Homo sapiens: one gene and its partners. The protein of the gene in region 1 interacts with the protein of each later gene in a pairwise test. Each region holds a gene or a part of one and is shown in the gene's direction. Other genes may lie near its edges.

The links.
Region 2: the proteins of NDUFV2 (region 1) and SULT4A1 interact in binary tests that used the Homo sapiens proteins (3 or more experiments, as listed by UniProt).
Region 3: the proteins of NDUFV2 (region 1) and COPS3 interact in binary tests that used the Homo sapiens proteins (3 or more experiments, as listed by UniProt).
Region 4: the proteins of NDUFV2 (region 1) and SORL1 interact in binary tests that used the Homo sapiens proteins (3 or more experiments, as listed by UniProt).
Region 5: the proteins of NDUFV2 (region 1) and SPATA22 interact in binary tests that used the Homo sapiens proteins (3 or more experiments, as listed by UniProt).
Region 6: the proteins of NDUFV2 (region 1) and PIAS1 interact in binary tests that used the Homo sapiens proteins (3 or more experiments, as listed by UniProt).
Region 7: the proteins of NDUFV2 (region 1) and LGALS9C interact in binary tests that used the Homo sapiens proteins (3 or more experiments, as listed by UniProt).

The regions. Positions count from the first base shown.
Region 1 is NC_000018.10:9,129,700-9,133,999, forward strand, and holds part of NDUFV2 (NADH dehydrogenase [ubiquinone] flavoprotein 2, mitochondrial precursor), read left to right. Parts: intron 1-2,523; exon of another isoform or gene 2,524-2,699; intron 2,700-3,691; exon of another isoform or gene 3,692-3,811; intron 3,812-4,300.
Region 2 is NC_000022.11:43,859,192-43,864,170, reverse strand, and holds the start of SULT4A1 (sulfotransferase 4A1), read left to right. Parts: upstream 1-1,657; 5' UTR 1,658-1,788; coding exon 1,789-1,957; intron 1,958-4,979. UniProt on the Homo sapiens protein: Atypical sulfotransferase family member with very low affinity for 3'-phospho-5'-adenylyl sulfate (PAPS) and very low catalytic activity towards L-triiodothyronine, thyroxine, estrone, p-nitrophenol, 2-naphthylamine, and 2-beta-naphthol.
Region 3 is NC_000017.11:17,260,162-17,264,461, reverse strand, and holds part of COPS3 (COP9 signalosome complex subunit 3), read left to right. Parts: intron 1-2,355; coding exon 2,356-2,496; intron 2,497-3,987; coding exon 3,988-4,161; intron 4,162-4,300. UniProt on the Homo sapiens protein: Component of the COP9 signalosome complex (CSN), a complex involved in various cellular and developmental processes.
Region 4 is NC_000011.10:121,605,309-121,609,608, forward strand, and holds part of SORL1 (sortilin-related receptor preproprotein), read left to right. Parts: intron 1-93; coding exon 94-263; intron 264-1,536; coding exon 1,537-1,649; intron 1,650-1,877; coding exon 1,878-1,982; intron 1,983-2,795; coding exon 2,796-2,868; intron 2,869-4,300. UniProt on the Homo sapiens protein: Sorting receptor that directs several proteins to their correct location within the cell. Along with AP-1 complex, involved Golgi apparatus - endosome sorting.
Region 5 is NC_000017.11:3,451,096-3,455,395, reverse strand, and holds part of SPATA22 (spermatogenesis-associated protein 22), read left to right. Parts: intron 1-4,300. UniProt on the Homo sapiens protein: Meiosis-specific protein required for homologous recombination in meiosis I.
Region 6 is NC_000015.10:68,084,777-68,089,076, forward strand, and holds part of PIAS1 (E3 SUMO-protein ligase PIAS1), read left to right. Parts: intron 1-1,529; coding exon 1,530-1,974; intron 1,975-3,068; exon of another isoform or gene 3,069-3,114; intron 3,115-4,300. UniProt on the Homo sapiens protein: Functions as an E3-type small ubiquitin-like modifier (SUMO) ligase, stabilizing the interaction between UBE2I and the substrate, and as a SUMO-tethering factor. Catalyzes sumoylation of various proteins, such as CEBPB, MRE11, MTA1, PTK2 and PML.
Region 7 is NC_000017.11:18,486,342-18,490,641, forward strand, and holds part of LGALS9C (galectin-9C), read left to right. Parts: intron 1-558; exon of another isoform or gene 559-575; coding exon of another isoform or gene 576-599; intron 600-1,305; coding exon 1,306-1,416; intron 1,417-2,599; coding exon 2,600-2,695; intron 2,696-4,300. UniProt on the Homo sapiens protein: Binds galactosides.

The DNA.
Region 1 (4,300 bases):
TCAGGGTCCTGGAAGAAAAGTAAGGTAACAGTATGGCTGCAGTGAGGTGCTCAAGCAAGAAAGCAGTGGAAGGGGTCAGAGGAGATAAGGGCCCAGATAAGTAATCTGGGCTGAATCTTAAATATAATAAAAACTGTTGGAATGTTTTCAGTAGGGAATGGAATGAGCAATCTTAAAATACTGCCATAGTTGCTATGTGGAGATTAGAATTTAGTAGATATGTGGGACTAAGGATTTATGAGTGATTTTCAGCTTTTTGGCTTGAGCATCTCTGAGGTTCCTTTACCGAAAATAGAGAAGATTTGTGGTAGGGCAAGTTTGGGGAAGAAAAGTCAAATTTTGTTTTAGACATAGTAAGTTTGAGATGCCTGTTAAGACATCCATGGTATGATGCTGATAGGTAGATACGAACCTGGAATATAGGGAATAGGTTAGGGCTGGAAACACAAATTGGGGATTCATCAGTTACTAAGGGTAGTATTTAAAGTTATAAATCTGGATGACATTATCGGGGTGAAATTAAAATCTGTTATTTGTAATATGAGGTACTATAACATTGTATTTTAACAATAAGCAGGAACTAAGTACTCAGTTAAGCATTTTCAACAACATCTGATAATAATAGGGATGTTACTTATCAGTAATCATGAATAGTTTTTCGCTGAGATTTTCTTGACAGTGTTCTGGATTTGAGCCAAATACTTCAAAATTATTCGTGTCCGAATCTCTTTTTTTACTTACTACCTCTTATTTAAAAAGCAGACAAAAGTCTACTTAGGTTTCAATAATTGCAAGCATCCACCAATGCTGTATTATATAAAGCTTGTATTTGGACATAGCAATACTAGAATGTCTTGTCAGCATATGAAAACAAGAACTTTTCACTTTACTTACCCAATATCTTGGATATATAGGATAATGACAGAGACTGGGATAGCAATAACCATAATATAGTTATAGTTATTCTAAATTAACCAAAGCTGTCTAATTCTTTTTTATTGGTATTTTAATAATAAATATCTCTGCTCTTTGAAAGAGGTACTAATTGTGCGTCTCTGTAATGAAAAACCGAGAGGAATTAAACTGGTTCAATAGTAACTGATTCCTGAGTACCACTGCCAGGTCTTACCCTGGCCAAAATTAGTAAAAGACTGATGTCTATATGTGGTTCAAAACTGCTTTTGTATTATCGTTGGTGAATGACCACTGAAAATATTAAAGCAGTGGTAAGATAATACAGTTGACTCTTGAACACCATGGGCGTTAGGGACATTGATTGCTCATGCAGTTGAAGATCTGTGTGTAACTTTTGACTCCTCCAAAACTTTACTCATAGCCTGCAGTTGTCTGAAGGCCTTAACAAATAACATAGTCAGCACATATTTTGCATGTTGTCTGTATTATATACTGACTGTATTCTTACCATAATCTAGAGAAAAGAAAATGTTATTAAAATCATAATGAAAATATATTTACTCTTCATTAAGTGGATCATAGTACAAGTCTTATCATTTTCATGTTGTATAGGCTGAGGAAGAGGAGGGGTTGGCCTTGCTGTCTCAGAGGTGGCAGAGGCTGAAGAAAATCCATGTACAAGTGAACCCATGCAGTTCAAACCTGTGTTGTTCAGGGTCAGCTGTAGTCTCTTAATCTTGACATTACTAAATATTTTTGTGCTGAGATTGTTCTTATTTTCAGTGAATTTAAAGTACTGAAAAATTCTAAACTTGTTTTCAGGTTACTAATAGGTAGAAATTTTTTAGTATGGATTAGTTTATAACTCATTTTAAATCCAACTTTAATTCTTCATATTTAGAGCTAGGCTACAGTTCCAATGCGGTTGGTAGATGACTCTAGACAATAACATCACTTTTGGTTTTTTATACTAAAAGTAGGGACAGTGCTGGATATATCTCAGCAATAGTAAAAAGCACTAAACTTTTATAAAGTAATTTGTCTATGTAAAGTACTTTAAGCCATGAAAGTTTACAGAAAGGCCAAGTTTTCTAGAAAGCAAATAAGTTAAAATGGTACACATACGTATAGTGTTGGAATGACTGACGAACCATACTTTTTAAATTTTAGTGAAGATGTAATTATTAGATGGCATTTTAAGCATGAGATATCAGGAAAATCATTTTTTGTTTAGTAAGTGAAAAACACTAGTGTAAATTGTGGCTGTCAGGTGAGTGGATAGGGCTAGCTCACTGCCTCTTGAGTGTTCTGAGGCATGTTTACAGATGAAAGGGGGGGTTACATTTTTAGTAGATTAAACAAAATTATAGGCTTTATTGGAGGATTTTTGTAGCCTTTGTAGTATTTTAAGGTACACTGTGTGAATGGCGAGGAAGGGAGGTTTACAGCCAGACATACTGGATCACTGGGACTCCCGTTTTTCTATACAATGCCATGGGATTGTAATTTTATGGAACAAACTTTAGGAAACTCTAGACCAGATTATTTTTAAAATTACTTCCATATATAAAATTCTATAATCCTGTGAAGAACTCAGGAAGTACTTACGATTAATTCTCCCATTTATTGTTCCGGAAACTTCAGTTTTTATAATCTTCCTAAATTGATCCTTTATGTTGATAAACAGTGTCGATATTAAGGAGCTCATTAATTTTGGAAGATCCATATCTATCCAAACTGGTAAGAGGCTTTAAGATAACAAATGCTCAGCTTTCAGGAGACGTCTAAAATGAAACTTTTAAATCATATTCCATTCTGATATTTGATCAAGAGAAAAGTTTTAGGCAGAAAAGAAGAGGTAGCTGAGCTTAAACCGTAAGAAGAAACCTAGTAAAGGTGAAGAAAGTTTCTCCAAAATAATTTCATTGACATTTAAAGAGCAGCAGTGGTGCCTATCAATAGGCAACATAAAAAATTACAGGCCGGGCACAGTGGCTCACCTGTAATCCCAGCACTTTGGGAGGTTGAGGCGGACAGATTGTTTGAGCCCACAAATTCAAGACCAGCCAGGGCAACATGGTGAGGTCTTGTCTCTACGAAAAATACAAAAATTAGCCAGGCATGGTGACGCACACCTGTAGTCCCAGCTACGTGGGAGGCTGAGGTGACAGAAGCACCTGAGCCTGGGAGGTTAAGACTGCAGTGAGCCATTATTGCATCACTGCATCCCAGCCTGGGTGACAAAGTGGGACCCTGTCTCAAAAATAATAAATAAATTTAAAAATTGCAAAATATAATACTGTTGTCTTTTTTTTAAAGTTAAGTATCATTTTGCTGCTTACTCTACAAGTTTCAGGCTCTTACAGTATACAATGACTGCTTTTTTATCTGTTTTTGTAGTGAACAAGACCTATAATCCAAAGATATTAACTAAGTTCTGACTTTGTAGATAATTGTTCATTACTTAGTAACTTGTATTATATGCTGTGACATCTTGAAAGATCTTATATTATGTGGTGTCACTTTCCTGGCTCCAATAAAAAATGATTCCCTAGGGCTCTAAAGAACAGACTTAAAGGATTGATGACACAATGTGAAGGGCAAAGCCAGAGGGGGTTGAAAAGATATAAACTGAACAAGTTCTTTCTTTAGGTAAATCTGTGGCAGGAACAGGTAAATTAGCAAAGCCAGGGAATAGTGGTGGAGGGGTGACATACAGTAAGTCTGAGCTGGGCTCTAGAAACAGAGGTCAGACAGGGCAGAGGTGAGCAATTACCTGGGAAAGCGTGTGTGGGGTTGACAGACAGGTTCTTCTCCCTCTATGCTGCCTGTCTTCATAAATTGCTCCATCAGGACTTGTTCTTGTTTGCTTCCTTTTGTGGCTGCTATGGCCATCCTGGTTTGGAAACTTTTTTCAGAAAATTACTACTACTAATATAGTCTTTATAATACATAAATACAAACTGATTTTGACTTCGCTGCTTCTAAGGGACATTGTCCCAAATCATATTTCCTCAAGGAATCCAGTTTCTATTTCCAAATACAATGTATAAGTGTGTGTATTCCCTCTATTCACTGTGACTGTGGATCTTGATCTAAATAAAATTCAACTCTAAAAAGAAATACAGTGCTCTAGTTTATTAAAACATGGTTTTTAAAAATGTTCTCTGGGGTTGGGTATTTTTGCCGTAGTTCTTTGCTTTGATTCTTGGGTAGATGCTGAATCTCCCAAATTTGGTTTCTCTAACTGTAAAATAAAGCCAGTATCACTTGTCTTGTGGCATCGTAAGGATTCAATGAGCTAGTGTATGCATACTGCTCAGTAAATAGGAACTATTATTAGGGCTACTTTTGTATTTTTTATGTTTATGGTGAAGTCTGATGT
Region 2 (4,979 bases), on another chromosome or scaffold:
CATTGGCCTAATTATTCTGAATAAAGGCTGGGTGCTCGGAATGTCCTCTTTCTTTTTTGGAAAGACATCTACAAGCTTCCCAAGTCAGGATTAATTGCTGTTTCCTCTCTCTGTCTGCTATGTACACATGGCCTGCGCTTCTCAGCCCATGTGTATGTCTTTGGTGTCAGAATGCACGTGTCTCACTCTACAGTAAGAAGGAGAGAGTAGGAATAGGTCCCGTCCAGCCACTCTGCTCCAGATTCTTGTTGGTGTAAACTCCTTCCATCTTCCTGGCTACACTACTTAGAGGTAGGAATCATTCTTTTCCTTTACACAGCTGATGATGCTCGGCTGCAGAGAATGAGAGCAGGCTGTGTTGTTTTCATCTTTGTGCTTCCCCAGGCATGTTAGTAGGTGCTTCATATATGTCTGTTGAGTGCATGACTGGCAAGGGGTTGCACTGAGATCTCTAGAACTCGGTTGCTCTCAAATTATAGTTTGCACAAGAAGTGCCTTACTAAATGTATATTTTTGTAATTTTTCTCCATAGATCTGGGGTCCTGGAATTTGCAATCCAACACTCCCCTCCCCTACTCATGGGATATTAAGAAGCACTTTTTGGCTGGGCGAGGTGGTTCACACCTGTAATCCCAGCACTTTGGGAGGCCAAGGTGGGCAGATCACGAGGTCAGGAGATTGAGACCATCCTGGCTAACACGATGAAACCCCGTCTCTACTAAAACAAACAAACAAAAAATACAAAAAATTAGCCAGGCATGGTGGCATGTGCCTGTAGTCCCAGCTACTCGGGAGGCTGAGCCAGGAGAATGGCGTAAACCCGGGAGGTGGAGCTTGCAGTGAGCTGAGATCGCGCCCCTGCACTCCAGCCTGGGCGACACAGCGAGACTCCATCTCAAAAAAAAAAAAAAAAAAAAAAAAGCAAAAAAAAAGCACTTTGTTTTTTTGGCTGGACTAGGTGGCCCATACTTTTTTTTTGTTGTTGTTAGAAGATCTCGTCCTGTTGCCCAGACTGGAGTGCAGTGGTGCAAGCTCACAGCTCACTGCTAATTTTTTTTTTTGTATGTTTGTAGAGATGCGGTTTCACCATTTACCCAGGTTGGTCTCGAACTCTTGACCTCAGGAGATCCGCCCGTGCTCGACCTCTCAAAGTGCTGAGATTACAGGCGTGATCCACCGCGCCTGGCGAAGACGCATATTTTTAATAGGACCTAATATTTACCTGAAATTATCTTGGTTATTTACCAATGTAAGCTCCAACAGGGCCAGGCTTCTGCTTGCTTCTACCCTGACGCGTGTCGGGGCCCTGGCCCAGTGCCTGGCACAGATCAGCAGCGCGCTAAGCACGTGTTGAATGGACGACTACCTTTCAGGGCCTTCCAGCCAGGGTATCTCATGCGTCTGTGTTGAGCGCTTGCTGAGTGACAGAAGCTATGAGCGGAATGAACGCACGCACGACTGAGGAGGCTGCAGACCGCGGGCCAGGGTCTCTGTCAGCCCCGGCAGCGGGTGGGTGACCCCGGCCGGGGGCGGGGCGGGGAGGACGCGGCTCCGCGGCGCCATGACGTCACGCCCGTGCAGCGCCGCGGCCGCGTGCCGGGCGGCGCCATGACGTCATACCCGCGGAGCCTCCGCCGCGCGTCGGCGGCGCCATGACGTCACGCCTGCGGAGCTGCCGCCGCGCGCCGGTGGGGCGCGAGCGTGTGCGGGGCGCGGGCGCGGGCGCGGGCGCGGGCGCGTGCGGGCTGCGAGCCGGGAGGCGGCGGCGGCGACGGCGACGGCGGCGGCATGGCGGAGAGCGAGGCCGAGACCCCCAGCACCCCGGGGGAGTTCGAGAGCAAGTACTTCGAGTTCCATGGCGTGCGGCTGCCGCCCTTCTGCCGCGGGAAGATGGAGGAGATCGCCAACTTCCCGGTGCGGCCCAGCGACGTGTGGATCGTCACCTACCCCAAGTCCGGTGAGCCCCGCGCCGACCGCGCCCGCCACGCCATGCCCCAGCCCTGCAGCGCGGCCGCGTAGACGCCGCGCCCGCGCCCGGGGCTTCTGCTGGGCCGGGTGGTCGCCCTTGGCCTCCGCCCCTGCCGTGCCCACCGCTCTCCCGATGCTCGGATCCCTGCGGGGCGGGGTGGGGTGGGGTGGGGGTGGGAAGGGGCTTGGTTCTCATCTGGGGAAACCAAGGTCAGAGACCTTCGGGAGCGGCCCCTTCCGTGGAGATGGAGCCTATTTGGCCGGCGCTGCAGGAGGATGGGCCCAGGGCCGCCACCCATCCCTGCTTCTCCCTTTACCTGGCTGGCTGTGTGACCTTGGACAGGTCACTCAACCTCTCTGTTCCTGAATCCTGCCCAACCTTTGATGAGTGCAAAGTCCTGGTGTTCACCTGGGAAGGGAGATAACATGGGCGTCAGGGCTTTCAGCGTGGAAACGTAACGTCCCTCCTTTCCAGCCTGGGCTCCGGGTGGGGGATGGGACCAGTCCCCGCCTGGAGTGCCTTGCTTGTACATTCTCTTGTTTCAGGGCTGCCTCCATCACCGAGGCAGGACCTGGGGCATTCACATTTCCCAGCATTAGCTGACGTCACTTTCACAATAACAGCTGTGTGAGCTAGTGGTGGTCATTCCCACTTTACAGTCTAGGCACAGAGGCTCAGAGAGGGGAAGAGGCTGGTCCAAGGTCACTCAGCTGGTGAGTGGCTGACCTGGGAATTAAAGCTAGGCTGGTCTGTTTCCAGACCTGAGGTAGGAGATTGTATAGTACCCCATCTGAGGTTTTTAGGGAAAGGAGGTAGCAGCTTTCCTGTTCTGTAAACATGCCCTGGGATTTCCTTGTTGCCACTGTATTTGAGGCAATCACAGCGTGGTTTAGAAGGTGTCTGGCTCTAAGGTCACGCCGGACCAGCAGTCGGGCAGTTTCAGGAAAAGCTGTAGGCTTGGCTGTTGTAGCTGTATGGAGTTCCAGACACCTGAGGGCAGGTCTCTGACATTCTTCTGAGGAAGATTGGAGTAGGGACTCTCAGTGGAGGGTGTTGGTTGGAGAACAGAGCGTTCGATGGGCTGCTATCTTGAGCACATGCCAGTCGCCGCATGGGGTGGGACCTAAAATGCTTTAGGAATGGCTAAGCGTGTCGTTGGCTTCTGTGGCCACTCATTAAGTCCTGCGGGCCAAGTGCTCTATCGCTGTTAATCTGTGAGGGACTCTTACACCTTTTTTTCAGAGGCTCAGAGAAGGCACAAATTGTTCGGAGTCACACAGTTGCTGAGGGACAGAGGTCAGGTCTAGCTAGGTCTCCCGGTCCACGGCCAGCCTCTCCCCTGCCTTATGGGTGCTCCGTTGCCCTTGGAAAACCGTGAGGGCCCAAGAAGGAGGGGGACCTAGCCTTCTTTCTTGGAGGCTTTAAAATGCTGGAAGTCTCAGCCACTTAGGGATTTTGAGGTTTGTGTCACTTCTCTGAGGCCCCTCCAAGTGGACTTCTGGTAGCCCAGTTCATATTTTCTTTTCCTTTCCTTCCATCTGCTACTGGGGATGGATTTGTAGCAGGCATCAGTGCTTACACATTAAGAACCTGGCTTCGGAGTTGGAAGTCCTGGGTTTGAATGCAGTTTTGCGGCTTACCAGCAGAGTGACCCTGGGCAGATCATAGAATCCCATTGAGCTGTGGTCTCTGCGGAGGGAGAAGAGACCACCTCGGCCCGCTGATGTGTGGCTGTGAGGATGAGCAAAATGGCGGGTGAGAACGCTTAGCCCACGTCCAGACACACGCTGGAAAGGCTCGTGGTTAATGCTGACTTTTAAGCCCTGAACACCTGTTGTGCCCAGATGCTTTGCTAGGGGCTGGGGAAGCCGAGAGGGCCCCATCTGGTGCCTGTCCTTAGTGAGCTCTCAGTCTGATGGGGGAGACATGGTTGGTGCTGGGGTTGGGGCAAGTAGCCAGGACTAACAGGTGCCCCATTCACCTGCCATGGCAGGGAACCCACGGGCCTCCTTGGATTTCCAGTGCCCAGGTGTAGGAGATCCTAATGAACTTGCAGGTGGTCAGAGCCGGAAGGGCCTGGTCCCTTGTCAGCCCCTTCCCACCCTCTGCTGATGGAGAAACTGGGGTTCAAAGGGGTGGTGGGGGCTTTCTGGTGGCTAAGGCAATGATAATTAGATCCTGCCTTCGCTTCCTGTCCGGTATTTTTTCCCACAACCCCGTGCTGCTTGCTCGGATTCTTTTTGTGCTTGCGACATTCTAGCTTAGATGGCGGGTTAGGACTGTGCTCTCCAGCGTAGGACCCTCTGCCCACAGGCGGCTGCTTACATCTAATGAATTAAAATGAAATAAAAGTGGAAATTCTGTTCCTCAGTAGCATCACCATGTTTCAGGTGCTCAGTAGCCACATGGGGCTAGCGGCTGCCGTATTGGGTGGCGCAGATATGGAGTGTTCCCATCACAGCTGAAAGTTCTGCTGCACAGCGCCAGGTAAAACCGTGATCCAGACAGTAGGAGCCCATTGTGTCTTCTGAGAAGGACCTTTCTGTTGATGACCGACTTTGTTCCTATTCATTCTTACAGCGTAGTTGGTCCTGGGACGGTGGTTGTATTAAATCCGATTGTGTCTGTGAAAATATTTTGTCCCTGTGTGTTGGTTTGATGCAATCACTGCCACTGGTTTTGTCAACAGGTTGATTTGAATTGGGTGCTCGTCCCCGAGGGGGCACAGCCCCAAAGTCATGGAGCTTGGGCTTTGAAATACGGTCCCTGGCTCAGCCAGAGCACCCACTGCCCTGAGTTTATTTTGCCCCTGGTTCCGGCCAGTCCTGAAGTGTGTGCGCATTCTCACTGATGCAGACGGAAGCTTCTGGGCCTGGGCGTGGGTGAGCCACCTGGTTTCTTTGAACCTCAGTTTGCTCATTAAAAATGAGAGGATTTGACCAGATTGATTCATTTAAGTCTTACATTTTCAGACAACTCAGGGGTTGAAGCTGAGGGGAGCTGAAGCTGA
Region 3 (4,300 bases), on another chromosome or scaffold:
TAAAACCATGTGTGGTATTTTGTTAAGTTTTATTTAATCAGTGAAACATTCTCTTGATTCAAAATTTAAAGGGTAGAAAGGAGTACACAGTAAAAGTCCCTCCCACCCTTTCTGTGTCTGTGTAATGAAACATAGTACACAATTTGGTAGAATATTCTGGAGGTTTACTCAGACTCTGAAAAAGAGATACACAATATTGATTAATAAACCACTTTACTTAAGGTAAATTAGTTAGATGTTCGTAAGTTCCTATTTAGTTCATAGCATGTATTAAGTAATAAAGGATATTTAAAACCTTCAGAGAGCTCGGTTTAGTTGGAATTCTAATACATAATACACATGCATACATGTACACACATCCGTGGCTCTGAACCATACCACAATGAGTGGTTGATGTGTCCTGTTGAGGGGACCTGAGGAGGGCCACCATAAGGTGCCAGTAGGCAGAGATGGTGTCATTAAAGCACGTGTCTAGTCAGGTTAAATCTTCAAGGTGGCTTCTCTTTAAGACTACGCATTCGGAAAATTATAAAAATGCACTTCGTAGCCACTGGATGCATTATCATTGCTGTAGCCAAATATAGTTAACTCATGAGCAAACTTGATCTTGAAATATCAGGATGAGTGGGTGTTAAAAAGGTAAGAGGCGTCCGAGTGCGGTGGCTCACGCCTGTAATCCCAGCACTTTGGGAGGCCGAGGCCGGCGGATCACCTGAGGTCGGGAGTTCGAGACCAGCCTGACCAACGTGGAGAAACCCCATCTCTACTAAAAATACAAAATTTAGCTGGGCATGGTGGTGCATGCCTGTAATCCTAGCTACTCAGGAGGCTGAAGCAGGAGAATTGCTTGAACCCAAGAGGCGGAGGTTGCAGTGAGCCGAGATCGTGCCATTGCACTCCAGCTTGGGCAACAAGAGCAAAACTCCATCTCAAAAAAAAAAAAAAAAAAAAGAAAAGGCAAGAGGCTGGGTGAGGTGGCTCACACCTGTAATCCCAGCACACTGGGAGGCCGAGGCAGGCAAATCGCCTGAGGTCAGGAATTCAAGACCAGCCTGGCCAACATGGTGAAAATGTCTCTACTAAAAATGCAAAAATTAGCTGGGCCTGGCAGCAGGCGCCTGTAATCCCAGCTACTCAGGAGACTGAGGCAGGAGAATCTCTTTTTTTTTTTTTTGAAATGGAGTCTTGCTCTGTCGCCCAGGCTGGAGTGCAGTGGCACGATCTCGGCTCACCGCAAGCTCCGCCTCCCGGGTTCACACCATTCTCCTGCCTCAGCCTCGTGACTAGCTGGAACTACAGGTGCCTGCCACCACACCTGGCTAATTTTTTGTATTTTTAGTAGAGATGGGGTTTCACCATGTTAGCCAGGATGGTCTTGATCTCCTGACCTCGTGATCCGCCCGCCTCGGCCTCCCAAATTGCTGGGATTACAGGCATGAGCCAACACGCCCAGCCAGGAGAATCTCTTGAACCAGGAGATGGAGGTTGCAGTGAGCCGGGATTGCGCCACTGCACTCCAGCCTGGGTAACAGAGACTCGTCCTCAAAAATAAAAAGACAAGAAAGTGGCCAGGCGTGGTGGCTCATGCCAGTAATCCTAGCACTTTGGGATGCTGAAGTGGGAGCATTGCTTGAGCTCAGGAGTACAAGACTGAACAACATAGTGAGCAACATAGGAGTCAGCCTGAGCAACATAGTGAGACTCCATTTCTACAAAAAATATTTTTTTTTTTGAGACGGAGTCTCGCTTTGTCGCCCAGGCTGGAGTGCAGTGGCGCAATCTCAGCTCACTGCAAGCTCCGCCTCCTGGGTTCACACCCTTCTCCTGCCTCAGCCTCCCAAGTAGCTGGGACTACAGGCGCCCACCACCACACCCGGCTAATTTTTTTGTATTTTTAGTAGAGATGGGGTTTCACTGTGTTAGCCAGGTTGGTCTCGATCCCCTGACCTCGTGATCCACCCACCTCGGCCTCTCAAAGTGCTGGGATTACAGGCATAAGCCACCGCGCCTGGCCTCTACAAAAAATTTTAAAATTAGTCAAGCATGGTGGCCCACTCCTATAGTCCCAGGTACTCAGGAGGCTGAGGCAGGAAGATTGCTTGAACCCAAGGAGTTTGAGGGTACAGTGAGCCATAATTACATCACTGCGCTCCAGCCTAGATGACAGAGCGAGACCCTGTCTCTAAAAAATGCATAAATAAAAATAAAATGAATTCTATCTCAATAAGGCTGTTATAAAAATAATGGGACATTTAAAAAGTATTATTGACTTATAATTAATGTGATACATGTGGTTGATTGTTGTTTGCTACTGTGGTATGTTCTCTTTACAGCAAGCATTCTTCTCTTGCCTAGGCTATAACTACTCCTGCCATGGCGGTCAGTCATATCATGTTGGAATCATATAAAAAGTATATTTTAGTGTCTTTGATATTACTTGGCAAAGTACAACAGCTACCAAAATATACATCTCAAATTGTGGGTAGATTCATTAAGGTAAGTTTTTTACATAAAACTGATTTCTTACGTGAGCATGTTGAGTATATAAAGAAATTGCAATGATACAGTTCTGTAACTTCGTTTTATACTGATTTAGCTCTCCTAGCAGCTTCAGGTGAGCAGACATTTATTGAATGTCTGCTACACATTCTCATTACCTGATTGGAATGGAATATTTCTCAGGAACCCGTTTTCAAACTTGTGCTCTAGATACTTACAGCTATAGATGTTTAAGCTCCTATAACAGTTGATTTTTTTTTTTTTCCCTAGAGACAGAGTCTCGCTATGTTGGCCAGGTTGGTGTTGAACTCCTGGCCTCAAGCAGTCCTTCTGCGTCTGCCTCCCAGAGTGCTGGGATTACAGGTGTGTGCCACTGAGCCTGGCCTTTATTTTGTTTTGTTATATTTTTCATTTTATTTATTTATTTATTTATTTAGAAATGGAGTTTTGCTCTTGTCACCAAAGCTGGAGTGCAGTGGCGTGATCTCAGCTCACTGCAACCTCTGCCTCCCGGGTTCAAGCGATTCTCCTGCCTTAGCCTCCCGAGTAGCTGGGACTACAGGTGTGTGCCACCATGCCCAGCTAATTTTTTGTATTTTTAGTGGAGATGTGGTTTCACCGTGTTAGCCAGGATTGTCTCGATCTCTTGACCTCGTGATCCACCCGCCTCGGCCTCCCAAAGTGCTGGGATTACAGGCGTGAGCCACCATGCCCGGCCCTGTCTTCCTTCTTGCTAGCAGAAGTAGCAGATTGTCCTGTTGCATCTGGTGAGGTGTGAGAAAGAGAGAGGGAGAGTTGGGAATGATGAATGTTTTGACTCCTTTCTTCTCTATATGATTTATCAGTAGAAAAACAGAAGCACTGATGAAGACGTGTGCCTTCACTAAATTCAGTGGGTTTTCACCTGCTGTGTTATTACTTGGTCTGTAGTACAAAATTTTGTGGAAAATGAATTACTCCATAGTGACTTTCTATCCCTGGTCTTAAAAACCAGGCATTTGCTTTGGGTAAATTATAATTTGTAGGGTAACAGTGTGTAGTTACCTGACAATATGGGATATACTTGCTTAAAAAATAGTATGTAAGTGTGTTTTTGCTTCCTATACACATTTGAGTCTTCTGAAGTTTGTTTGTTTGTTTTTGGTTTTTTTTTTTTTTTTGAGACGGAGTTTTGCTTTGTTGCCCAGGCTGGAGTGCAGTGGCACGATCTTGGCTCACTGCAACCTCCACCTCCTGGGTTCAAGCGATTCTCTTGCCTCAGCCTCCCAAGTAGCTGGGATTACAGGCATGTGCTATCACGCTCAGTTAATTTTGTATTTTTAGTAGAGACGGGGTTTCTTCATGTTGGTCAGGCTGGTGTTTAACCCCTGACCCCAGGTGATTTGTCCGCCTCGGCCTCCCAAAGTGTTGAGATTACAGGCGTGAGTCCCCACACCTGGCCTCTTCTGAAGTTTTAATCTGAATTTTTTCCCTCCTTTGCATCTTTAGCCTCTTAGCAATGCATACCACGAGTTAGCACAAGTGTATTCAACCAACAACCCCTCAGAACTCCGAAACCTGGTGAATAAGCACAGTGAAACCTTCACTCGCGATAACAACATGGGGCTGGTGAAGCAATGCTTGTCATCTCTTTATAAGAAGAATATTCAGAGGCTAACAAAGGTGAGGAAAGTGCCACCTTCACAGGGCAGCTCCTGACCCCCTGGGGGCCATGTTTCCCTTTCTCTCCCTTTTCAGAGCTGAGGAAGCAGGTACAGGGATAAAGCATGGCAGGATTTCTGTGCTGAGAGAGAACTCTCTT
Region 4 (4,300 bases), on another chromosome or scaffold:
CTAGTGGCATGCACCATGCTATTAACGGAGTCAGACATCTCAGCCCCCCATGCTGCTCCAGTGTGACAATATCTTTATTTTTTTTTGGGCCAGGGTGGTTGGAGAGAGCATATGGAAGACTCTGGAGACCCACAGCAATAAGACAAACACTGTATTAAAAGTCTTGAAACCAGATACCACGTATCAGGTTAAAGTACAGGTTCAGTGTCTCAGCAAGGCACACAACACCAATGACTTTGTGACCCTGAGGACCCCAGAGGGATGTAAGTGTTTCAGTTAATTTTTATGGCATGGGTAAGACCTCAGGTCGGGGTTTGTGAGGGTCTTTCTGAGTATTCTCAGGAATGTGGGAACATATGTGTGCCTCACATGTACAGAAGTATGGTGGCTAAGCTTTATAGTCTTGCCAGAGTTGTCAAACATCTGTTCTTCTTACTGCATCAGAGACTGTTCTTGTACCTTAAGTTAATTTAAGATTCTCTCCACCATTGCCCTCTTGCATTTTTTGTCTAGTTTCTACCTCTACGTTCCTCCTCTAGATATTTCCTAGTACTTGGTACTTAGGAGGAGGTCATCGTCATTAAAATATGAGGCATATCAGCAATTTTGTGGCTAAGTTTTTTTCTTTTTGGAGACAAGGTCTCACTCTGACACCCACACTGGAGTGCAGTGGAGGCGCAATCACTGCTCACCACCTCAGTCTTCCCAGGCTCAGGTGGTCCTCCCGCCTCAGCCTCTCGCATAGCTGAGACTATAGGTGTGTGCCACCATGCTCAGCTAGCTTTTTGTATTTTTGTACAGAAAGGGTTTTGCCGTGTTACCTAGGCTGGTCTTGAGCTACTGAGCTCAAGCAATCCACCTACTTCAGCCTCCCAAAATGTTGGGATTACAGGTGTGAGCCACTGCACCTGGCTTTGTGGCTAAGTTTTTAAGAAATTTACCAAATTTATGTGTCTAAGAGAGTTCCTCGCCTCCTCCCTACTTCAAAGTAGTTGACATGAGCAACTGTCTGCTTGAATGTCATCTTTTTTCATTGCCTAAAGTATCCTGAATATGCTAGCGCTAAACTCATTAAGGAGCCTGCTTTGAAGATGATCAAATTCATTTGGATATAGAAATTCTGTGATGTTACAAAATTAGTCTTATTTTTTGGTAGTCATGCCCACAGTACAGTTTTTGTTGTACAAGAAGCAGAGGCAGCAGGTGCTGTCATTGACAATTAAGATCTCAGCATGGAAGTCTCAGGGTCAGTGGTGACTCAGCCTGCCCAAGTGATTCTATCCTGCAGCCCTTATGAGCCACAAATTTACCACACACTCAACTGAGCCATGATGTGATGTGTGGACGGCACACCTTGCTTTTTGGAAGAAGAGGAAAAGTGTCTTTTCAATGTGACGACCAAGCTAGCAGCCTTTCTAGTGGATAGTCTCAATGCCGGCTGTGGAGTCGTTCTTGTCCTTGTTCTAAGCCCAGGAAAATTCCTCTGGTTGGCTGCTATGCAGATGGGTTTTAACCTTGAGTTGACTCTTTTTCTAGTGCCAGATGCCCCTCGAAATCTCCAGCTGTCACTCCCCAGGGAAGCAGAAGGTGTGATTGTAGGCCACTGGGCTCCTCCCATCCACACCCATGGCCTCATCCGTGAGTACATTGTAAGTACCTTCCATGAGTTGGCTGTATGTGTGTTGGGGGTGCTAGGAGATTTCTGGGTATTCTGTATGACGAGGGGGTTGATTTGGTTTAGCTTTGTAGGTGATGACCCATCCGTCAGAACATTTTGCTCCTCACCATCTTTTCTCTCCTCCAGCCTCCTTGCAAGATATTAGGATGCCCTGGACCTTTGGTTCCCTTTACTCACATTTTTTTTCTTCTCCCTTTAGGTAGAATACAGCAGGAGTGGTTCCAAGATGTGGGCCTCCCAGAGGGCTGCTAGTAACTTTACAGAAATCAAGAACTTATTGGTCAACACTCTATACACCGTCAGAGTGAGTGTCGTCATCCATTCCAGCCATCCATGCAGTCTTAGAACTGAGCGAAATTGCTGCTGTTTTGTGAGAACTCTCTACTCACCTTTGTGAGATGCATATTAGTAATCTGCAAAATACCCAACTTCTTGCCCTGGGACGGGGGAGCTCAGAGTTTCTTTCAGTCTCTTAAATGGACACCACAAAGAGCTTGACATCAGAGTTTCTGTAGATAACCGGGCGTTTATGGGAATGCCGCTTTCCCTGCTTTTAACTCCGGTATTCTGCTAGCTTTCCAGCTCCTATACTTTTGCAGTCAGCTCTTTCCTGCTTATCTTTAGCTGCAGGATGATGCAGAGCTATGATAAGTAGTCTTTCTAAACTGATTTTATGAGGTTCTTATGAAATATATTTTTAGTATTTTTAGCAGAAAGAGATAGATTTTGTGAACAACATGTTTGCTGAGACCATTAAGTGTGCACATTCATGACTCTCACACTGATAATTTTGTCAGTACCCTTTTTGTATATGTGTGTATTTATGAACACACCCCCCCATACACCTGCCCTTTAGAAGAACCTTGATATTTGTGGATCAATAGAAATTTTCTGATCTCAGGACTGTCATAATGCCCTTTACCCAAGCTCCTTCCCTTGGCTTTTTTGCCCTCTTATTTCAGATGCTGGGGCCTCTGAATATTCTGGATCACTCTGTATAAAATTTTTCCAGCCTCACTGCCAAAATCTCACCCCTTTAGCTCATTCAGTATTCTTACTGTATGGTGTATGGTGTATTGCCTTTATTTCATATTAATTCACCCTCTGATTTGAAAAGGTGGCTGCGGTGACTAGTCGTGGAATAGGAAACTGGAGCGATTCTAAATCCATTACCACCATAAAAGGAAAAGGTAAATGATCCCAGCATTTGCAGATTTAGAGAAAATATTATACAAACCCTTTCAAATGACTTTCAGTATGACCGGAAAATGGAGAAACGTAGTTTAGAAAAACATCACACAACTTTCTTCTCCCCAACACACGCACATTTTTGGGTGTCTCTGTAGTGCTTTAGATAGAGTCTTTTTGGGGTGACTGAGTGTCTTTTTCCTCCTAGTATTGAGCATTTCTTCTAATGCAGACATACAAAGGGATTTCCAAAGGCCATCATGCGCAGCCCTTTGTGAGTAGTCAAAATATCTAAAATAGAAGGAGTCCTTCCTTCTCACCAAAGCTGAAGATGATTTTGTGCATGTTCACTTACGGGGTTTTAAAGAAAGCACCATGCTGACTCTTGTTATTCTCCCAGTGGCACTGGCAAACTGTGTGTAGGTGGTTTTTTATCTTGTACTAGAGCTGATATTAGTAATAACTGATGGCTTGCCAAGGGCAGGACACTCTAGAGTGTTCACTGCTTTGCGTACATCAGCTCATCTAATTGAACAGTCAGAACAACTACAAGAAAGGATAAGGAACTGGAATGAGGTTATGTCACTTGTCCCAGGCCACACAATCAGTAAGTGACAGAGCTGGCCCTGGAACCTGATCTGCCTGACTCCAAAGCCTGTGCTCTTAACCACTGTGCTCCACGCTTCTCTCTGGGCTGAGACACATGCGGCCTACTGGACCGCCCTGCTTGCCGGGGGTGGCGGGCTCAGCATCTTGCACGAGTGCCTCATGAGGGCAGAGATCTGGTCTGTTTTTCTCTACTCTATCACGGGCATCTAGTAGAGACTAAGGAAATAATTGATGATTGAGTGAATCGAAGCAGTTAAATGAAGGGTTCTGGCATACTTTGGGAGATGGACTACAACTCATTTTCCAGAGTGGTTTTCCTGACCTTAGCCTTGACACTGGGGACTTGCATTTCTGGACTTCCAGGTATTAAAACCAGATGGACACTGTGGCATGCAATAGGACTGGAAGATTTTACTTTAACCTAAGCCTGTGAGGAATAGGCTCTGGGTCATGGAGAGTCACTATCTAGTCCCCTCTAAAATCTGGAGCCTTTGAGATCAGGGCCCAAGGCGGCCAAACGTAGTGCCACCAGATGGTCTTTGGAGCTGAATGCTTGCAGGTATTAGAGAAAGCCTGCTGAATTCACACTCTCCTAGAATTTTTATTGTTGTATCTCTTCTCTCTACAAAGTCTGTTTCAAAACACTGACCACACATACCAAGAAGGGATGTTGGAAGAGCAACCAAATACATGTACCTTGAATTCCGAAGGCACAAGTCACAACTGCATTTGAAAATCTCAGTGGATGGTTGGTTCTCTTTAACTTCTTTTCTGTGATTTTGATGAATCTCAGCTGCTTGCATATATTTGGGCTAGGATTTGTAC
Region 5 (4,300 bases), on another chromosome or scaffold:
GCATTACCATTCAGGACATAGGCATGGGCAAGGACTTCATGTCTAAAACACCAAAAGCAATGGCAACAAAAGACAAAATCGACAAATGGGATCTAATGAAACTAAAGAGCTTCTGCACAGCAAAAGAAACTACCATCAGAGTGAACAGGCAACCTACAAAATGGGAGAAAATTTTCGCAACCTGCTCATCTGACAAAGGGCTAATATCCAGAATCTACAATGAACTCCAACAAATTTACAAGAAAAAAAAACCCCATCAAAAAGTGGGCAAAGGATATGAACAGACACTTCTTAAAAGAAGACATTTATGCAGCCAAAAGACACATGAAAAAATGCTCATCATCACTGGCCATCAGAGAAATGCAAATCAAAACCACAATGAGATACCATCTCACACCAGTTAGAATGGCGATCATTAAAAAGTCAGGAAACAACAGGTGCTGGAGAGGATGTGGAGAAATAGGAACACTTTTACACTGTTGGTGGGACTGTAAACTAGTTCAACCATTGTGGAAGTCAGTGTGGCGATTCCTCAAGGATCTAGAACTGGAAGTACCATTTGACCCAGCCATCCCATTACTGGGTATATACCCAAAGGACTATAAATCATGCTGCTATAAAGACACATGCACACGCATGTTTATTGCGGCACTATTCACAATAGCAAAGACTTGGAACCAACCCAAATGTCCAACAATGATTGACTGGATTAAGAAAATGTGGCACATATACACCATGAAATACTATGCAGCCATAAAAAATGATGAGTTCATGTCCTTTGTAGGGACATGGATGAAATTGGAAATCATCATTCTCAGTAAACTATCGCAAGGACAAAAAACCAAACACCGCATGTTCTCACTCATAGATGGGAATTGAACAATGAGAACACATGGACACAGGAAGGGGAACATCACACTCTGGGGACTGTTGTGGGGTCGGGGGATGGGGGAGGGATAGCATTAGGAGATATACCTAATGCTAAAGATGAGTTAATGGGTGCAGCACACCAGCATGGCACATGTATACATATGTAACAAACCTGCACATTGTGCACATGTACCCTAAAACTTAAAGTATAATAATAATAATAAAAATAAATAAATAAATAAAACAAAAAACAATATCAATTCTTCAAATCCATGACACAGGATTTTTCATTTATTTTGTCTTCAGGTTTTTTTTTTTTAATCTGTTTTATATTTTTTAGTGTATAGACCTTTCTCTATCTTGGTCATTTATTCCTAAGTATTTTATTCTTTTTGGTGTTATTGTAAATGGGATCATTCTCTTGGTTTCCTTTTGGAATATCTATTGTTGGTGTAAAGAAATGCTCCTGATTTTTGTATGTTGATTTTGTATCCTGCAATTTTACTGAATTCATTTTTTAGTTCTAACAGTTTCTTAATGGAGTTTTTAGGGTTTTCTACATACAAGATCATGTCATCTGCAAACAGAGACATTTACTTCATCCTTTCCAATTTGCGCTCCTTTTATTTCCTTTTCTTGGCTAATTGATTGGCTAGGACTTCCAAGACTAGTTGAGTATTACTTGTCTGAAATATTTGGGATCAGAAATGTTTCAGATTTTTTTGTAGTTTGGAATATTTTCAGAATACCTACCAGTTGAGTATCCTAAATTTGAAAATTCAAAATCTGAAATGCTTCAGTGAGCATTTCCATTGAGCATCATGTTGTTGCTCAAAAAGTTTCAAATTTTGGAGCATTTCGAGTTTTGGATTTTCAGATTTAGAATGCCCAGCCTGTAACTATGTTTGAATAGAAGTGGTGAGAGTGGGCATCCTTGCGTCGTACTGGATCTTTGAAAAAAAACTTTCAGTTTTCCCCCATTATGATGTTAGCTGTGGGAATTTTGCAAATGACCTTTATTGTGTTGGAGTATGTTCCTTCTATACTTATTTTTTTTAGAGTAAACTGAATGGATGTTGAACTTTGTCAGATGCTTTTTCTGCATCTATTTTTGTCTTTAATTCTGCTACTGTGGTGTATAACATTGATTGATTTGCGTATGTTAAACCAACCTTGCATCCCAGAAATAAATCCCAGTTAATCATGGTGTATAATTTTGTTAAAAAATATTTCAACTTTCACTTTAAATATAAGCGGTACATGTGCAGATTTGTTTACATGGGAATATTGTGTGATGCTAAGGTTTGAAGTATGGATCCTGTCACCTCACCCATGAAGTGAACAGAGTACTCGACAGGTAATTTTTTTGATGTGCTGTTGAATTTGCCTTGCTAGTATTTATTGAGGATTTTTGCATGTATGTTCTTTAGTGATATTGGCCTGTAGTTTTCTAGCAGTGTCTTTGTTTGATTTTGATATCAGAGTGATGCTAGTCTCATAAAATGAATTTGGAAGTGGAATTCCCTCTTGTTTTATGAAAGAATTTCAGAAAGATTGGTATTAATTTGTCTTTGAATGTTTGATAGAATTCACTGTGAAGTCATCTGGTCCTGGGCTTTTCTTTGTTGAGAGGTTTTTGATTACTTCGTTAATCTCCTTATTATTGGTCTGTTTAGGCTTTCTGCCTCTTCTTGATTCAATCTTGGTAAGTTGCTTGTTTCTAGGTATTTATCCATTTCTTCTGTGTTATCCAATTTGTTGTCATATAATGTTCATAATAGTCCTTTATGATCTTTTTTATTTCTGAGAAATCCATTGTATGTCTCCTCTTTCATTTATTTAAATCTTCTTTTTTCTTTTTTTAGTCTATGTAAGGGGCTGTCGACTTTATCTTTTCAAAAAAATAAGCTCTTAGTTTTTCTTTTTTTTTCTTTTTGAGACGGAGTCTCACTCTGTTGCCAGGCTGGAGTGCAGTGGCACGATCTCGGCTCACTGCAACCTCCACTCTCGGGTTCAAGCAATTCTCCTGTCTCAGCCTCCCGAGTAGCTGGGACTACAGGCCTGCCCCACCATGCCCAGCTAATTTTTATATTTTTAGTAGAGACGGGGTTTCATCATGTTGGCCAGGATGGTCTCGATCTCTTGGCCTTGTGCTCCGCCTGCCTCGGCCTCCCAAAGTGCTGGGATTACAGGTATGAGCCACCTCGCCCGGTCCCAGTTTTGCTTTTTTTTTTTTTTAATTCTCTATTTTATTTATTTCTACTCTAGTCTTATTATTGCCTTTATATGCTTATTTTGGGCTTAGTTTGTTATTCTTTTTCTAATTTCTTTAAGTGTGAAGTTAGGATGCTTATTTGAGATCTTTTTATTTCCACTTGGGCATTCATTGCTATAAACTCCCCTTAGTACTGCTTTTGCTTTCCCATAAGTTTTGGTATGTTATGTTTTGTTTCTGTCTCAATAATTTTAAGATTTTCTTTTTTAATTCCCTCTTTGATCAATGATTGTTCAAGAGGGTGTTGTTGTATTTGTGAATTTTTTCATTTTCTTTTCTGGTTTTCTTTTTTTTTTTTTTAATTGAGACAGAGTCTCGCTCTGTCGCCCAGGCTGGAGTGCAGTGGTGCAATCTCGGCTCACTGCAATCTCCGCCTCCCAGGTTCAAGTGATTCTTCTGCCTCAGCCTCCCAAGTAGCTGGGACTACAGGTGCATGCCACCACACTCACCTAATTTTTGTATTTTTAGTAGAGACGGGGTTTCACCATGTTAGCCAGGACAGTTTCGATCTCTTGGCCTTGTGATCCGCCCACCTCGGCCTCCCAAAGTGCTGGGATTACAGACGTAAGCCACCATGCCTGGCGAATTTTTCCATTTTCTAGCTGTTATTGATTTCTAGTTTTATACCATTATGGTCAGAAAAGATACTTGGTGTGATTTTGATCTTCTTAAATTTGTTAAGTCTGTTTTTGTGACCTAACGTGAGTTATCCTTCAGAAAGTTCCATCTGTGCTTGAGAAGAATGTGTAGTCTTCTGCTGTTGGTTGGCAAATTCCATATATGTCTTTTGGGTCCATTTGATCCATAGTGTTGTTCAAGTTCACTGTTTATTGATTTTTCTGTCTGGATGATTTATCTATTATTAAAAGTGGAGTATTGAGCTTTCTTTTTTTTATTATGTTGCTGTCAATTTTTCCTTTTAGATTTGTCAATATTTGCTTTATATATTTAGGTGCTCTGATATTGGATGTATATATGTTCACAATTTTTATGTCTTCCTATTGAATTTACCCATTTATCATTATATAATGACTTTCTTTGTCTTTAGAAACAACTTTTAACTTAAAGTCTATTTTGTCTGACATAAACTTAGCCACCCCTGTTTTCTTTTGGTTGCTGTTTGCATGGAATATCTTTTTCCATCCCTTTATTCTC
Region 6 (4,300 bases), on another chromosome or scaffold:
TGGTTTGCTTATAGAATCACTTGTGTAAACAGAAAATTACAATAAAGCAAAATAAATGCTAAAATACAGATGCGAAAAGTGGCCTTTGTAAAAATAGTGAGAGTAAAGATCATCCTACCAAGGCTAATGGCCAAAGGCTAACAAAAGCTGGACCTTGAGGAAAGAGTTTTCCAAGCCAGAGAAGTAAAGGAAGGACTCATATTTCTTTGATTAACCAGCTATATTGCTTATAAAGCTCTTTATATACTTTTCTCCTCAGTATTTTATTTTTTGCTTAATGGTTTTGCCACCTGCAAAGAACCCTTAGAGAATTGGCTGGGGTTATCATTGTGAGTGGTGGTGAGTTAGGGAAGGCAGCATAAGCATAGCTTTTGTGTATTTGGTATGAGGTGAAGGAATTAGTTGGAGAAATAGAGAGCAAATGGTAAGCTTACATGTGTCTTTTTATCCTAATACTCCCTGTCAGTGGTGATGCAATCTTTTAGGATTCTGCTAATAGCTGTGTGATCTTGGGTAAGTGATTTCTTCTCTTTGGATTCCATTTTCCACCACTTTAAAATGGGAGGATTGGTATAGATGGTCATTTCCTATTAGTAGGTGGGGAAAAAGGAGAAAGGGGGACTAAATAAGTTTGCGAACATAGGTAAACAAAGTTAAATAGATTACTGCAGCCTCATGCATTATGGCATATGAATTGGGTTGCTGGACTTCTAGCTTGGCCTTGCAAGTTAAGTGAGAGTCAGTAATATGAGTCCAGCTCTGTCTTTTTCCTAATGGTTTAGTGGAAAGAGCATGGGCTTTAGAATCAGACATATCTGGGTTTGAATCCTGACTACTCCTTAGTAGCTTTATGGCTTTATAAGTTATCTAACCTTTCTGAACTTGTCTCCTCATGTATAAATCAGGCAGGATAATACCTTGCGGAGTTGTAAAGATAATGACATTCCATGTGAAAATATCAAATAGAATATCTGATATATAATTGGTCAAAAAAGGTGTAACTTAAGTCTACAAATTCCAGAGTTAGTACAGAATGTAAGTAACACTTGATAATAGCTATTGATATCCTGCCTACATCTGGTGTTTGAGATGGACTGTTTGTTGTTTCATATATACTTATAATTCTTCCCCAAGAAAACAAAATATTCTTGAGAGCACATCATTACGTTTTGCCATCTACATAGCACTCGACATTCTCCTGGAGACTCAGTAAGTGCTTGATAAATACCTGACAGTTTCATCAAAACAGTGGAATAAAGTGAGGTGTGGTTTTCCCTGGTGTATACTTTATCCTATATTTCTTATAACCAAGGGTAGAAGTCAATGAATTTATGAATATTAATTTTAAATTTCTTTGGTTACTTAACGTTAAATGATTAAATTTGAAGTTTGAAATAATAGGATTATAAGTGAGCTGGCCTTTATTTGCTTAAGTAAACCATAAGAAGGGGGTTATAATAAAGTGTCATTTAATAGTGTAAATTATATTATTGGAATACTAATGTTTTACATTTTGTTTTTTCTCTAAGCAAATGGTTATGAGCCTTAGAGTTTCTGAACTCCAAGTACTGTTGGGCTACGCCGGGAGAAACAAGCACGGACGCAAACACGAACTTCTCACAAAAGCCCTGCATTTGCTAAAGGCTGGCTGTAGTCCTGCTGTGCAAATGAAAATTAAGGAACTCTATAGGCGGCGGTTCCCACAGAAAATCATGACGCCTGCAGACTTGTCCATCCCCAACGTACATTCAAGTCCTATGCCAGCAACTTTGTCTCCATCTACCATTCCACAACTCACTTACGATGGTCACCCTGCATCATCGCCATTACTCCCTGTTTCTCTTCTGGGACCTAAACATGAACTGGAACTCCCACATCTTACATCAGCTCTTCACCCAGTCCATCCGGATATAAAACTTCAAAAATTACCATTTTATGATTTACTGGATGAACTGATAAAACCCACCAGTCTAGGTAAGATTATTGTATGATAGTATTTGGTTACTTTTGCAGGATGAATTTTCGTTTTAGGCTTTTACTTTGACCCAGTTTATTATTCATAATGAAATTTTCATTTGATAGTAACAGCTGGATAATAATGAAGATCTTTCAAATTTAGATAAAATCAAATATATAAAAGCTGTCTTTCAGGAAAAAAGGTAGTATAGTGATGGTTACTGACAAAGTAAATATTAAAAAGTTTCAAGAATATAAACTTCCAAAGAGTAGTATTTTAGAAGGTTGATTAATATTTTATAATATCTCATAAATTAAATTAAAACCAAATGAATCACTACAAGTCTCTGATTAGTTCTTAATTTTCAGGGGTTGATGATCTCTAAAACAAATCACTGACTAGTTTTGATTATTTAAATGAGTGAATGGTTTTAATGATCATAAAAGGAGACTTGAGCTTTGATGTATGCTAGTTAAATTTCAGCTGATTTTTTTCAAGTGGAGAAGTGCATGCTTTACAGGCATGCACATGCACATGCACACTCATGATTACGGTTATATAATATAAGTGCTTGAAATTTATTTTACTGTGTTGTTCCATCATTTGATTTGTAGTCTAGCATATAGAATTCAATATATTAATCAACTTGTAATTTTAATTGCTATAATGCTACCTTATTTATTTAACGTAGAATAAAACTCAACTGTTGTGACCTCTGATGCCTTTGGTATAATATATTTAAAATATCAGACTTCTAAATGCTGGTTTGTTGGCATACTACGGCTGGCAAGCTAAGTCCAGTCTGTGGCCTGTTTTTATGTGGTTCTGAGCTAAGAAATCTGAAAAATATTCCCAAAGAGTTATTAACAAAAAAGGAAAGAAACAAAAACAAAGAATGTGTAACGGAGACCATGTGTGCCTGTAAAGCACAAAATATTTACCCGTATAGTAAAAGCTTGTGAATCCCTGTTACAGATCATTGAACATTTCAGTTTGGGGGACTGGCAAGTGTTGAGAACATTTTTTGCGAATTTTTGAGAACATTTTGAAAATGTTTACTGAAATTCTATCTTTGAAATATGAAGTGTTTGTTTTTAATTATATTTAGCAGAAATTATCTGAATACACGAAGATTATAGGAGTCATTTTCAAACAACGTGAGTTTTGTATCACATTATTTTATTTTTTAAGTGGCCATAATAAGAAAACATTTTTTGAGAATCTACTGTATGCTTATAAAACTGACACATGCTCATTGTAAAAAATGGAATTGCCAAAGTTCCTTCCTTGTTAGCTGTTTAGTGTGTATGCATATATAGTATAAGCAAATTGTTTCTTGTTTTTTACAGAAGGAATCATATACATAGTATTGTATAACTTCCCTTTTTTCCCCTTAATAATATATCATATGCATCTTTTCTTGTCTGTCTGATTATGTGTGTGTATATATATATATATATATATATATCCCATTTTAAATTAAAGGCCATATCTGTATCTATCCATATCTCTGTATATGGTCTGTGTACATGTATGTATGTGTACATATGTGTTATGTATTGATCAGTTGATGAAAACGTTGTGACCAGGGGCTTGCAGGAACCTAACCCTATACTTCCCCTGGTAGCAGTGATTATATATTCGCAAATTCAGTGTTTGTGGTGATTTTATGAACATAAATGTCACAAATAGCAATAATTGACTATATTTGAAGTATGATTTGAATGCCAGTTTTCATGAATAAATCTGCTGTTTGTGGTATGTATTCACAGAAAGTCACCAAATGAATAGGTGGTATAGAATTGCTTAGTGATATGTAAATAGATTTTCAGTATCTCATCGTTATAGAATTAAAAACAAACCAATTTAATATGCATAAAAAGATCTCACCACAAAGTAATTTGTGGAAGTTTATTGGCTCAATAAATATTTGTTGAAGGGCAATGCTTATTGAATGTGAAAAATATTTATTGAAAAAAGATTTTATGTAATTAGTCTTCAGGGTGTAGGATGAGTATATTTTAAGGCTCTGTTTTTATAAATTCTTTAACATTATTAAGACTTTTTCTGTACTTCATTAAATGAAGTGGCTACATTTGTCACATAACTTAGTTTCCTAAATGATTATTTTTGCCGGTAGTTCATTTGTTTTAAATCTAAGAAAACCACGTTTTCTGGAAAATTAAATAGCTTCCAGCATTCTCTTCATTTCTAAACGTACATACATTTAAAATCAAGTTTTTGAGAACATAGTTTCGAACACCAGCTGGCTAGTTGATCACAACTATCACTGAGTCCAGAATGGGACAGGCACATTTACTTTTTCATTTTTTCCCTTCCATT
Region 7 (4,300 bases), on another chromosome or scaffold:
TCCTGCTTCTTTTACTCTGAAAATAAGAACTAGAGGAGTCATCACGTTGCTGTTAGGTGTTGTGTGTCTTTGAATTCCAAGCTCATTCCATTCCTCTGCTATCACCATACCTCCTCTCCAGGTCCCTGGTAACATTTATTTTTCAGCGACATTGTTCCAGCCCTTATCCAGAGTCTATTACGGTTATAGTTCTGTAAGCACATTGCAAATTACCTTTGCAAGCACAGTAGGTCTCTGGGCTTGAGAAGCCGGTGGGTAACTCAGTCTGAATATGCTTATCTGAGATAAGGATGTTCCCATCCATTCAGTATGCAACCCGATGTCACCTCTCCTCTGCTCCCCGTGAGCATTTTATGCATATTTAAATAATACCCCTGCAGTCCTAAAAAGGAATGAGATCATGTCCTTTACAGGAACATGGATGGAGCTGGAAGCCGTTGCAGGAGCAGAAAACCAAACACCGCAAGTTCTCACTTATAAGTAGGAGCTGAACGATGAGAACACATGGACACAAGCGGGGAAACAACACACACTGGGGCCTGGTCGGGGACGGAGAGCATCAGGAAGATTAGCTAATGGATGCTGGGCTTGATACCAAGGTGAAGGGTTGATCTGTGCAGCAAAACACTGTGGCACACATTTACCTAGTTAACAAACCTGCAGATCCTATACTCATACCCTGGAACTTAAAATAAAAGTTGAAGGGGCTGGGCACGGCGGCTCACCCTTATAATCCAAGCACTTTGGGAGGGTGAGGAGGACAGATGGCTTGAGGTCAGGAGTTCAAGACCTGCCTGGCCAACATGGTGAAATCCCGTCTCTACTAAAAATACAAACATTAGCTTGGTGTGGTGGTGGATGCCTGTAATCCCAGCTACTCGGGAGGCTGAGGCAGGAGAATCGCTTGAACCACTGCACTGCAGCCTGGCTGACAGAGTGACACTCTATCTCAAAAAAAAAAAAAAAAAGTTGAAGGAAAAATAATAAATAAATGAAACCCCAGGAAATTCAGTTTGGTTCCTGAGCATGGGCTCTTTCTGGAACAATATGGCCTCCTAACCAGGCTGGAAATCGAGGAGTGAGAAGAAAGGGGAAGGAAACAACCAGAAGAATGGAAAGCCCGACTGGAGCCCAGTAGAGACTCCGGTTGATGCACTTCGGGCCACACACACGTCCCTGTAACTGGCCCCACACTGAAGACCAGACTCAGGTCTTCATTTTTTAGAAGGAGGGACCAGGAGCTCAGGGGTGGTCCCCATCCCGGCCTGGGGCACCTCCCCCGAAATACGTGCTCTCCTCTGGCAGGTGATGGTGAACGGGAGCCTCTTCGTGCAGTACTTCCACCGCGTGCCCTTCCACCGTGTGGACACCATCTCCGTCAATGGCTCTGTGCAGCTGTCCTACATCAGCTTCCAGGTCAGACTGTCCACCTGGCACCGGTCCCAGGGGCTGGGATGCAGGGCCCAGCGTAGCTGTGCTTAGGCCCAGCTGGGGGGACCCAAGCCAATCTCCTACCCAGGTCACTCTGGGGACAACCTCTGCTTCCCTGTCCCAGTACCTGCCCGCCCCTTCTCCTCTGTCACTCTGCCCCTCCTTCTGTGTCACTGTCTCTGTCTGGAACACCTGCCTTGGTCTCCCAGACTCCTCAGCTGCCCCTTTCTCTTCATCCGTCAATTTCCATCCTGGTAAGGAGGGCATATTGTTCTAGAAAGAGCCCAGGCTCAAGAACCAAACTGAATCCAGTTCAAATTCCCAGCTCTGCCATTCGTCATCTGTGGGATCTTAGACAAGCAACTTTGCCTCTCTCAGCCTCAGTTTTGTCATCTGTAGAATGAGCATGGTCATTGCCTGCCCCCCATGGGTGGTTGTGTGATTCATTGAGGAGACAGATATCAGAGGTCACACAATGGCGCCCCTGGGCCCACACCAGGGTCTGTGTGACCTCTGTGTTTTAAAAACTTTGAATGCGTTGCCAACATCTAAAAGGTCAGGAGACCCAGGTATGGTGGTGGAGGTCTGCAATCCTGGTTACTCAAGAGGCTGAGGCAGGAGAATCGCTTGAGCCCAGGAATTAGAGTTCTGCCTGAGCAACATAGCAAGACCCCATCTCTAAAATCTTTTTGTTTGAATAATAAAATAAAATAAATAAAACTAAAGAAGGTCAGGAGATACCAACACCACGTGAAAAATGGGAAGATTAGGGTATGCTGGGCCCACATTCCCACAGGGCACCGGCAGCTGGATGGGAGCTGCTGTTACCCTTTTGGCATTCAAGGGAGCTCCCTGAGATGAGCGAAGTGCACAGTAGGCCCTCAGCAAATCTGGGCTCCTCACCCTTTGGTCCTCATCTCTCATTCCCTCCTTCCCTGACTCTCTCCCCTGCGGGTGGAAGGGGAGGGAAGAGCTGGAGGGAGACTGTCCCCCTGCGCTGCTCACCGAAGCCTGGCCCTTTCCGCTCCCGCCTCCGTGTGGCCCTAACCCCCTTGCTGCATCCCCCTGCCTGCCTGTTCTCTGCCTCCTGCCCCTGCATCTGCCTTTCGGCTTCTCCTTGGCTCTATTAATGCTTCTCCTCACCGGCCGGTGCCTTTTGTTTTAACAGAATCCCCGCGCAGTCCCCGTTCAGCCTGCCTTCTCCACGGTGCCGTTCTCCCAGCCTGTCTGTTTCCCACCCAGGCCCAGGGGGCGCAGACAAAAAGTGAGTTCAACACAGAGGCCCTGGGTGGCTGAGCAGACAGCAGGAAGGACCGAGGGTTTGAGAGGCTGGCCCCAGCCAGCAGGCCACCAGGGCCTATGGGCCACATCTTGCCCACTCAAGAGTTCCCTGTCTCTGTCTGCTGGGCACCCAGAGCCGGGGACCTGGGTGTTGCCCTGGATTCTTCACTACCCTTTCTTTATGTCTCTCCAAGGCACCAACATATCTCCCTCCCAAAGCCACCGATGTGGCCCAGGCCTCTGGGATTCCTCACCATGACTACAGGGGTCCAGTTCCCCACCCCCCACACCCAACCGCTGCCACAGTGACCTTCTTATAAGCAAATCTGATCACACTCTCTCCCTGCTTAAAAATCTTAAAAGTCCCCAGCCCTTTAAACAAAGCCCAAATTCCCCAGCAGGGCATACGAATTCCTCCCCAGTCTGGCCCCAGTCCACCTCCTTGCCTCACCCCCAACCCACGAAGCTCATGCAACCTCCACGGCTCACTCAAGGCCCTCTCGGGCCACCATGCTTTTGCATATGCTGTCCCTGGTCCCGGAAGCACCCTCTGCCAGCCTGCCCTCAGCACACGCCTAATCGCCCTTCCATGCTCTGCCAAAGTGTCGCTCCTCTGGGAGTCCTCCCTGCCCAGAATATTGTTGGATGCTCCCCCCATGCCCCCACGGAGTCTGTACATATCTGTGCCATGCCAGTTCACAGCACCCCATTGTAACTGTTTGCGTGTCTGTCCCTGTCACTCCACCCCCATCTCCCTATGCCCATGAGGCCCCAGAGGGCTGGGACTGTGGGTCGTTCATTTGCACAGTGCCTGGCACTCACTTAGGGACTCGAAGAATGGATGAATGTGGAATGTGGTTTTCGCAGCCAGGGAGAATGGGATACCAGCCAGGGCAAGAACAGTCTACTGGGTGGGGCAGGATCCACGACAAGGAGGTGGGCAGCCCTTCCTCTGGCCACTCAAGCAGTGGGGACTGGGAGGAGGGGCGCTTTGTCTATGTAGCCTTTTTATGGCCCATGATGGTACAGACAGTGCACCTGCCTCCTGCCACGCTGACTTCAGGACTGGTGGAGCCCCAGGGAACATTCGCAGGGCAGCCAAACTTTGGCCCTGGCCCTGGCGCTGGCCCTGGCCCTAGGGATGACAGAAAGTGTGCTGGATACAGTCAGACAGAATTGGCTGCCATTTTGGATTTGATCCCTTCCACCCGGGCAAGCTTGGGCAAGTTGCTTAATCTTTCTGAGCCTCATTGCCTCACCAGGGACACAGGAGCTGAGGCTGCTTCCCTCTTTGGAAAGCACTGAAGCCCAGGACTCGGCCCACAATAGGCCTTCAACAAATACCACTTCTCAGCTTACGGGTGAAATATGGCACCGGAAGTAATGCTCTTGGCTGTGGGAGCTACAGACAGCAATGAGGTCTCTATCAAACCCAGCCTCCTCTCTCTCGAGAGGAACCAGTGGGGATACCCTACCCCTCAACCCCAAAGCCTTGTGCACCTGAGGGTAAAAATCTGGGTGCCACGGGCTCAGGAAGGCTTGCTTGGGAGCAAGAGGGAGGTGGGTGTGTCTGGGGAGGCATTTCTGA